Linked DNA regions of Homo sapiens: region 2 is linked to region 1. A link means that fine-mapping ties the variant in region 1 to the expression of a gene that starts in the linked region. Tissue or cell type: whole blood. Region 1 holds a variant in brackets; the other region holds the start of a gene. All regions are shown on one strand. Distances are from middle to middle.

What was found.
Region 2: ARHGEF3 starts here. The variant in region 1 is fine-mapped to the expression of ARHGEF3 in whole blood (INTERVAL, PIP 0.91).

The regions. Positions count from the first base shown.
Region 1 is chr3:56,757,001-56,762,377 of GRCh38, forward strand. The region is part of intron 2 of ARHGEF3 (Rho guanine nucleotide exchange factor 3); the gene reads right to left. Among named protein-coding and RNA genes, the nearest start is that of ARHGEF3, 42 kb to the right of the region's middle. The variant A/AT (reference allele first, on the strand shown) is at 2,174.
Region 2 is chr3:56,799,660-56,805,036 of GRCh38, forward strand. It overlaps ARHGEF3 (Rho guanine nucleotide exchange factor 3), which reads right to left and starts at 2,290. Exons shown (of 10, transcript NM_019555.3): 1 at 2,044-2,290. The coding sequence starts at 2,139. RefSeq lists a silencer at 2,290-2,459.

The DNA.
Region 1 (5,377 bases):
CACCTGCTCTTAACTAGAAACTTCCTGAGGTCAGGAATTGAATTTGCTTATGACATATGAGCCTTCATCACAAAGGCATTCTAAGGTAGTTCCCAGTTATTTTGAGATTCAACAATAAAATTCCAGAAAGTAAAGAAAAATTTTAAAAGGAACTATTCAACATAAGGGCATTGTTAAATAAGTTGTAAGTGGCTGGGCACAGTGGCTCACGCCTGTAATCCCAGCACTTTGGGAAGCCGAGGTGGGTGGGTCACCTGAGGTCAGCAGTTTGACACCAGCCTGGCCAACATGGTGAAACCCCGTCTCTACTAAAAGTACAAAAATTAGCCGGGGCGTGGTGGCATGTGCCTGTAATCCCAGCTACTCAGGAGGCTGAGGCAGGAGAATCGCTTGAACCCAGGAGGCGGAGATTGCAGTGAGCCAAGATCGTGCCACTGCACTCCAGTCTGGGCGACAAGAGTGAGACTCCGTCTCAGAAAAAAAAAAAAGTTATAATTACCTGCTGGATGGAATATTATCTAGACAATTCAGAGATAATTTAAAATGTAAACACCCCTTCTATGTAGCCTAAAATAAAATCAGGATTAAAAATCTATATGTGAACATTTTATAGTTATGCAAAAAATGCACATGAGCAAAGATATAAAGGGAACATCACAAAATTCTATTGTTGTTTCATGTTGACATTATGAGTGATTTCTGTCCTCCTTTATATATTTTTAGCCTTTTTTTTTTGTTTTGAGATGGAGTCTTGCTCTGTCGCCCAGGCTGGTGTGCAGTGGCGCAGTCTCAGCTCACTGCAAGCTCCGCCTCCCGGGTTCACACCATTCTCCTGCCTCAGCCTCCCAAGTAGCTGGGACTACAGGCACCTGCCACCACGCCCGGCTAATTTTTTGTATTTTTAGAAAAGACGGGGTTTCACTGTGTTAGCCAGGGTGGTCTCCATCTCCTGACCTCGTGATCCGCCCGCCTCGGCCTCCCAAAGTGTCTAAAATGGCCGGGCGTGGTGGCTCACGCCTGTAATCCCAGCACTTTGGGAGGCTGAGGCGGGCGGATCACCTGAGGTCAGGAGTTCAAGACCAGCCTGAACAACATGGTGAAACCCTGTCTTTATTAAAAATACAAAAAAAATTAGCTGGACGTGATGGTAGGTGCCTGTAATCCCAGCTACTTGGGAAGCTGAGGCAGAAGAATTGCTTGAACCCGTGAAGTGGAGATTGTAGTAAGCTGAGATTGCGCCACTGTACTCCAGCCTGGGCGACAGAGCAAGACTCCCTCTAAAGGAAAAAAAAAAAAATAGAAAATGAGGCGGGGCTTGGTGGCTCATGTCTGTAATCCCAGTTCTTCGGGAAGCCAAGGCAGGCGGATGGCTTGAGCTGAGGAGTTCGAGACCACTCTGGGCAACGTAGCAAGACCTCATTTCAGTTCTAAATTAAAAAAATATATATAGATATATATGTAAGAATAAATGAAAAATGTAAAAAGAAACTTCCAAAGAGCTTCAGGGTATTACCACAACCTTCTGGAAGCAGGACGCTCACTCTGCAAGTAGCAACACAAGCCCCTTAGGCTGGCACAAGTAGTGGGGGTGCTCCTGGGCTCACTAATGAGCTCATGATGGCTGGACCAGCCCTATGCAGGTCAAGAAAGTACTTGCACCAAATACACAGTTCACTAATGGTATCTTACAAATCCTTGTGATCTCTTAAAAACAGTCCCTTGTAAACAGTAACCAGGAACTAAATGCACACAGATCGCCAGCACTCGGAATCAATTAGCCACAAGCATTAAAAGGTCAAAACAAGTGCAGTGAGTCATTAAGTAACTTGCTCAACCCAGTTTGCAGTTCTGATGGCAGCTGAGTTAAGAATTAAAGAGCAGAAAGAAAGGAAACACACACAAAAACTTCAAAATGAAAGTTTCCACTTTCACTTGAGAGAATCAACCTCCTATCCTGTTATATTTTCAGTCCTTGGCTAACTTTAAACTCCCCCTACCAGTTTGAAAATAATGTATGCTAACTTTAAATTCTCATACATTACAAAAGTATATAAAATTAAGTACAAATGCCCTCATTTCCCCAAGTCTATCTCCTAGAAGTAACAACTGTTAAGTTTGTTCTAGCTCTTTCCAAACTTTTTCCATGCATTTGTTAACATTCATAGAAAACTGA[A/AT]TTTTTTTTTTTTTTTTTTTTTGAGATGGAGTCTCGCTCTGTCGCCCAGGCTGGAGTGCAGTGGCACGATCTCGGCTCACTGCAAGCTCTGCCTATTGGGTTCACACCATTCTCCTGCCTCAGCCTCCCAAGTAGCTGGGACTACAGGAGCCCGCCACCAGGCCCAGCTAATTTTTTTGTATTTTTAGTAGAGATGGGGTTTCACCATGTTGGTCTCGATCTCCTGACCTCGTGATCCGCCTGCCTTGGCCTCCCGAAGTGCTGGGATTACAGGCGTGAGCCTCCGCGCCTGGCCGAGAATGTTTTCTCTTTCTACTTGACAGTATCTTGAGGTGAAATTTACATAACTCAATTACTTTTTCGTTGTTGTTTTTTTGGAGATGGGTCTTGCTCTGTTGCCCATACTGGAGTGCAGTGGTGCAACCATATCTCACTGTAACCTCAAACTCATGGGCTCAAGTGATGCTTCCACCTCAATCTCTTGAGTAGCTGAGATTATAGATGAGTGCCACCGCTAAGCAAGTGCCTGGCTAACTTTTGTATTTTTGATTTAGTAGACATGGGGTCTTGCTGTGTTGCCCAGGTTGGTCTTGAACTTCTGGTCTCAAGAGATCCTCCCGCCTCAGCCTCCCAAACTGCTGGGATTACAGGCATGAGCCACTGTGCCCAGCCTACAATTAACCATTTTTTAGTGAACAATTCAGTGCTATTTAGTATATTCACAAGGTTGTACAACTACCATCTCTATTTAGTTCCAAAACATTTCCATTACCTCAAATTCACGTATTCTTTTTAATGGCTGCAGAATTAGTATCCCTCCCATAGTCTGGACAGACCTATTGATTTAATCAATCCACAACTGATGGACATTAAAATTGTTTCCAGTGTCTGGCTATTACAAAAAGTGCCTCAGTGAACATGCTTTGTGTATTTGTGCTGATACTTCTAAAAGGCAGGAATTCCTTAAGTGGAATTCCTTGGTCTAAGAAGTATGAACATTTTAATGTTTGAGATGTACCACTAAGTTGACCTCCAAATAGGCTATTCAACTTTATATTCCTCAGATAGGTACATAATAGTACACTTTGCTCACACTCTCATCAACAAGGTATTATTATCAATCTGATAGGTTAAACAACTATACCTTAATTTCAGTTTTGTGTTTTGAAGGTAAGATTGAGCATATTTTAATTAATTTATTTAAAAATTTCCCAGAGAGTTGGAGATTGTCTTCTGCTGCGGCATGGGAAAAAAGAGAGCAGTAAGCTGTACTAGGTGAGCTCTACCACTATGAATTTCTTGCTTTGCGTTTCCCTAGTGATTGCTGGGCTCAGGGTACTATGGGGGATATCACAGAGGGTCTTTTATGCGCTTTGCCTACACGTAGCACTTCTGATATATTCTCTCTGATTCTCACAACCACCCTGCAAGTTGGGGGTTTATTCCCATTCTACTGAGGAGGAAACTGAGGTTGAGGGAGGCTAAGATTCAAAACCAGATCTGGTTCCAACAGAGCCTGAGCTCTTTCTACTTTGGGGACTGCATCTACTGTTTACATGCAAGACATGCATTTTGGGGAAGTTTCAATGAGATGGGATCCAGCTCCTGCCTTCTAGGAATATAAATCTACTTAAGGAAAGAGAGAGAATACATTTGCTCAGTTTTAGGAATAATGGCTGATATCTGACCAATCAAATTTCAAATTTACACCTTTAATTAGGCTGGATTAAAAGAAACATTTTTTCTTACTCCACTCAGAAGGGACTGGATGTTGAAAGAAGAATCCCAAGGGAGGAATAAAGAATGCCAACCATTTGTCCAGGTGAGGTTACTGACACCTGTAAGTCTAGCAATTTGACAGGCTGAGATGGGAGGATTACCTGAGGCCAGGAGTTTGAAACCAGCCTGGGCAATGTAGCAAGACCCTGTCTCTATAAAAAAGAATAATAATAAAAGAATACCAAACCAGTGAGTGGTCAGCAGCCGTCTGGCCCCGGGGAAAAGGGGCAGCAGCTGGTATGGTCTGGGGACAGCACATGGGTGATGGGCAGGTGTTCATAACAGCACTGACCACATACCATGAGCTACCCCTGAACCCATCATCAGTACCACTGGGAAAAACTACATGAGAGAACTAGAGTTGAGGGAGGAACAGGCAACTACTACTAGAAGAAAAAAACTCCAAGAGGATGCCTCTTTAGAGAGAAGAACAGCCACATCCCTATCAGCATCCCTGCCACTGTCCATCTACACACCCTCTGCCCTTCTCTTTTTTTTTTATATTCAACATGTGCTGTATTTATAGGTTTGTTTGTTTCTTTCATGTCTATTTCCTTCCAATAGAAGGTAAACTCCTTGAAGGCAGGCATATCTACCTCCTCTATTCACTGATGGATTCATCAGCAACTGATATAGTAAGACCTCAACAACTTTTGCTTAATGATTAAATGTTATGCTTGCTATGTGCTGGGCACTGTGAGGGGAGCTTTAGAGCCCTGCTTATCTGAGAGGTAAGGATTCTGTCCCCTTTACAGACAAGGAAACTTGAGGCTCAGAGAAGGTGACACTTTGCTGAAGGTCACACAGCTAATGAATGGTGCTTTATTATTTAAAACCCGGTGGTAAGGTGACTGTCAGAATGACAATCCAAGTCTGGTCTATTTCAGGCCAACCTCCCTGCCCCAATATTTAACCAATATCCTACCCTAATTGCCCTAGGATAAGATTCATAGTGTAGCGGGGTACATGTGCCCAAATAAATGAACTGTAGTTTACTTCTTGGCCTGTAGAAAGTTTCTCAACCTGGCCACCACAACATTTTGGACTAGAGATTCTTTATTGTGGGAGGCTCTCCTGTGCATTGTAGGATATTTCGCATCATCTTTGCCCTCTAACCACCAGATGCCAGCAGCACAGCCAGCCCAGTTATGACAACCAAAACACCTCCAGACATTGCCAAATGTTCCTGGGGTGAGAAACGCCAGTCCACGGTAACTAGAAGAGGCCCACCTCAAAGTGAGGGACCTGGCCTTGGGCAGGACCACATAAAAACAGAAGCACATACATAGATCTCCCTGGGTGTGGGGATGCTGGGACCGGAGTGAAAAATATTCCAGGACAAGCAAGAGTTTCCATGAGGGAATCTGGCCTAGCAAATGAGTCAAAAACTGCAATCTCATAATTGCTGGCAGCTAAAACAACAAT
Region 2 (5,377 bases), 43 kb after region 1:
ATGGAGAAGCTAGGCCTACAAGGGTTGGCTGCCTTTTGCGCTGATAAGGAAACCAGAAAACTACCCACTAAACTCACTTAGGTTTCTTTTTCCAATTTTGCCAATTTCCATTATCAGGAAGTGATATGCTCATCGATGAAGCTAAAAGATATCTCTGCCTCAAAGTGTATAAAGCATACTTGATTTAGTGTTTAAATCAAACACTAAAAAACAAAAACCCCAATAGTGATATCTGAAAAATATTTACCAACTATTTCCAAAACTATTCCAACCCCTTCCTTATTTCTCACATCAGGATATCCCCATACGAGGAAAATAAGTCATATTTTATAGTCTAGATCCAGCTACCAATGAAGAAAATTAATATTTGACATGTGATAAGTTTCATATTTGTGATATATAGACATATCTATATTCTATGTATAAGAATAAAATGAAATTAAGCAGGCAAGTTTTACCTAAGCCTTTAGCTAAACTACTCAAAAACACAGGACTAAGTAATAGTAGGAAGGGACTGGTTAGAGTCCTCAGCTATCCTCACTATTCTTTTCTTTGGCCCACTTCAATTTATTAATTTATTGGTTATGCCTTTCTTCCTTACAAGTGGAGTTTGAGTGGGCACCAATTGCGCTGCTCCTATGTTGATTAAATTAGGAAGTTCCCACTGAAAAAATATTATATCCATTCCAGGCCTGACCAACCTGAATTCTATGCAAATGCCACTAGGGCCATCACACTTTCACAGCTGCTGGCAACAAAAACTCTTTGTGATAATATTCGACTGAGCTGGAGTGTAGGGTTGGGTTTGAGTGAGGGAGAAGTTAGTTTGTGCTCAGCGTATAGAAAGCTGAATACAACCAGAGACTGCTTGGAGTCCTGTCAGCCTGGAGCAGCTCTTGCTAGAGGAAATGAATCTTTGATGGTGTGCTCCCGAATATACATGATTCAGTGAGCCAAGTGCATACAGCTGAGCAGACCCAAGGAAGGCGAGTGGGTGGAACCTCAAGAATGCTGTGACAAGGCCGGATGCACACCTGCCTTCAGCCTTTCCCCAGTGGTGGTGGTGATGTTTGATGTTCGCAGAGTGAGGTGTGGGAGAGTGGAAAGCTCCCAGATACACGCATGAGCGGCAATGACTAGCTGGGTCCTGTGGGTTCCACCGCAGCTTGACCACAGCAAAGCTGTAATCTAGCGAAAGCGACTGTATTCCCTAAGACCCTCAAAGAGAGGGATGCTTTCTCCTCCAGCTGAACCCAACCTTTAAGGCCAGTGAGCTATGTGCCAGAGAAATAACACGCAAGAGGAAAAGGCAGACTAAACATAACCTGGGAGCACTCCTTCACATCGCCCGCAAGGCACAGGAAAGTTCCCAGAAAGAGAAATGTTTCCAATGTTCCAAGGCAGCTTTCCATTGACCCTAAGGACTTTAATTCATTTTCAAGATCCATGTGGGAGACACTCCAATTTACTCATTTAGCCCCAGCCCCCCGGCTGAATGACCCTCACTGGCCACAGGTGATAGGCAGAGGCGCTGTGTCCTGTTTTTGCTGCCAAAGGGCTGCAAGGCCAAGTCTGACAGGTGAGAGGGCTGGTACGTCCCTCTGCTCTCACAACCCAGGCAAAAAAAACTCGCTTAAAGGGTAGCGACACTGGGGCTTGCTGACACTTCCCTGACACTGGGGCTTGCTGACAGTAGGAGAAAGTCCCTCTGAGAGTCCAGACAGAAGATGGACAGTCTGAGAGCCCTGCAAAGGCAAGGAGGCAGTTGCTCCCAGACCGGCAGGTAGAGGGACAGGGAGAGAGGAGGCAGCTAGTGCTTGGTCCACAGAGAAAAAGCGAGAGAAAAGGAGACAGGGTGAGAGATGGCGACGGGGAGACACAAAGAAGACTGTGGGAGAGATGTAGAGAGAGAAAGTGGCACACACGGAGAGTGAGAGATGGAAACAGAGACAGTGACACTGGACGGGCGCCGAGAATGGGAGATGGAGGCAGACGAGACAGGCAGATGACCCATAGAGGTCCAGGTGCAGGGCGCGGCCCTACCTCAGCGTCCTTGGCCGGACCGCTGGCCGGGGGTAGCTCCAGGCTGCAGTTCGCTCTCTTGACCGTGAGGTAGAAGGGGTAATCCTTGGCCACCATGGCGGCTGCCGGGCCTGCCCTTTGGGATGTCACCGCTGACCCTAGGCGACTACAAAACTCCCAGGCAAAAGGGGGCCCCAGCTCCACGATGCCGGGCGGCGGCGGCGACACGGAGACCGACAGCCGGCTTCTAGCCGGGCAGGACTCGACTGGGCTCCGGAGCCGAGTGGGCGGGACCGTGCCAGCCACGCCTTGATGGGTGGGGAGGGGGCGGGCCGCCGGCTCGGCACCGCCCCACGCTGCCGGGAGGGCCCACGTGCCGCAGCGCGGACACCTCCTGGGGCTGCGAGGGGCGTGGGGCGGTCCCGCGGGTGGAGAGGGACCTCTCTCTCCCCGCTGGTATTCGACTCCGGGCGCCCCCGCAGAGCGTGGGCCGCGATTGCGGGGCAGGCAGACCCCATGATAGCTCCTTTCGGGCTCTTTGGCACTCTCCGGGTGAAAGGCTGCTGGTAGAAAGGAGGCTGGGGCGAAACCGGGCAACGGGGAGAAAGGAGGCTGTAGTGACACCTGGAGGCAGGAAGGAGCCTGGGGGGAAAAGCGAGCGTTTTAAAAGCCCACATTAGAAAGGGGTGGTGTTCTCTCTTACCCTGTTCCCAGGCCACTGCACGTTTTTTTTGTTTTGTTTTGTTTTTGTTTGGTTTTTTAAATGAATGTCAGTGGAATATAATCTACAAATGGCAAAATGCACCCATTTTAAGAGTACCGTTTGTTGAGTTCTGACAAATGTAAACACCCGTATAACCACCTCCACAGTCGGTATACGAAACATTTCCACCACCCCCGGAAAATTCCCTCGAGACCTTTCCCACTTTGCACCAACTTTTAAATTTGACTAGCATATTCAGAGGCTGCCTGACACTCGAGGGCAATCTGACAGAGTGTCCTTCAAGTATAAAGCTGTGCATGGATGACCTGGCACTACCACACCTTTCTGGATCCTTTTTGGAGAAACAATGACATTATAAATGCCCAAGAAGGCGATTGATCTTAAGGTTGTTTGCAGCAGCCCTGTCTGGGGCAGTAAAAAATAAAAAATAACTGGAAACAATGGTAATATATCCATCAATAGGGAGTGCTTAAATAAACTTTCTTCACTGTGTAATACCGCTTAGCAGCAGTGAAAAAGGAGATGGGTCTATGGGTGTGGCATGGAAAGATCTCCAATGTATTAGACTCAGTTTAAAAATAATTGCAGACTAAGCATAATACAATACCATTTGTGTTAAAAAAAAATACAAGTTTACCAAAGAATATCATATATTTTCTATAAAGACATATTTGTGGGTAAATAGCATTGAACACTGTCTACAAGAATCCACAGCAAGCTTTTACCAGTTCCCCTGTGGCTGAAGGGAGGCACCTGGGTTTAAAGAATTAAAGATAGTGAACAAAAGGGACTTAAGCTTATAGCTCATGTTTTAAAATTTTTTATAAGAAAAATACAGCCTGGGCAGCAGTGAAACCCTGTGTCTACAAAAAAAATACAAAAAATTAGCCAGGGATGGTGGTGCACACCTGTAATCCCAACTACTCCAGAGGCTGAGGTGGGAGGATCACTTGAGCCTGGGAGGCAGAAGTTGCAGTGAGCCAAGATCATACCACTGCACTCCAGCCTGGGTGACAGAGACCCTGAGAAAAAATAAAAAAGAAAAGAAAAAAAGAAAGAAATAGAGGAAGGAAGAAAGGAAAAAGAAAAGAAAAGAAAAGAAAAAAGAAAAGATGGCTAGGTAGAGTGGCTCACACCTGTAATCCCAACACTTTGGAAGGCCAAGGCAGCAGTGTGGCTTGAGGCCAACAGTTCAAGACCAGCCTAAGCAACATAGCAAGACCCTGCCTCTACAAAAAAATTTAAAAATTAGCCAGGTATGGTAGTGCATGCCTGTAGTCTCAGCTAATCCCGAGGTTGAGGTGGGAGGATTCCTGAGCCCAAGAGTTCAAGGCTGTGGTGAGCTATGGTTGCACCACTGCACTCTAGCCTGGTGACAGAGTGAGACCCTGTCTCAAGAGAAAAAAAGAAAAATACCTTCATTCATGGCACTTCTTGGGAAATTATAGTTTTTTAAAATATTATAATTATCATATTTTCTTTCTTTTTTTTTTTTTTGAGATAGGGTCTTGCTTTGTTGCCCAGGCTGGAGTGTAGTGGCATGATCTTGGCTCACTGCAACCTTCTCCTCCTGGGCTCAAGTGATCTTTCCACCTCAGCCTCCCAAGTAGCTGGGACTACAGGCCTGGACCAGTGTGCCCAGCTAATTTTTGTATTTTTGTAGAGACAGGGTTTTGCCATGTTTGCCCAGGCTGGTCTCCAACCCCTGAGCTCAAGCAATCCACCTGCCTCAACCACCCAAAGTGCTGGGATTACAGGTGTAAGCCACCATGCCCAGCCCTAAAATGATCATCTCTCAAAAGTTATTTTGTAGACTGTACTGTTGAATCTTTTTCCTCCTCATGTGGAAAGTCATGACTACATCAGGTGGTGATCTATGGAGACACTATCTTTTGTTTTTACTTCCTGGGGATGCAGGGGATAGTGGGAATGGTGATATCCAGTCCCTGTTTGCGTGCTCTTTGCTTCTAGCTGAGGTCAGAACCCAGCAGTTCCTACTTCTCAGGCAGGACACCTCATAATACATAGCTCTTCATCCCAGGTATCAAATCCACACCCTCACACTAAATCCACTTACTTTCCTACCCAGCTAGTGCAGACAAACTGCCTTTGGAGGCAGAAAGAATTGGGCCCTGTGTAACCAGCCTGTTATTACCACACATGTAAATGAAGCTCCTGAATGGGTGGAGGTTCCAACTGAAATTGAAGAGAGCACCTGAGTTTTTTTCCCTCGATAGATAACCTGAAGCAATAGGAAGAAAACTGTCTCAGAAGAGGTATGGGGCAGGAAAGAGCACCTCAGAACCACTGATTTTTCCTATTTGTATTCCTGAACACAATTTTATCCTTTTAGCCTGAGCTGTGCTGATGGGGAGCTCACACAAGTGCTCCAAAAGCTTAGCCAAGCTTGGTGGGGGTGTGAGAGTAACCTCATCTCCAAGTAGCCCCTGATTAACTATGCAGCCAAAGGCAGGGCCAGAGGCAGTGACATGCGTCACTCAGGGCTTGTCTGGCCACCAAGAACCTGTGCCCAAGTACCCGAGCCACTTCTTATTCCTCTTTCTCTGCCTGCTCTTCTGGCCCTCACAGTCCACTATCTCAACTAGAACACATTTGCCATCAAAGCCACTG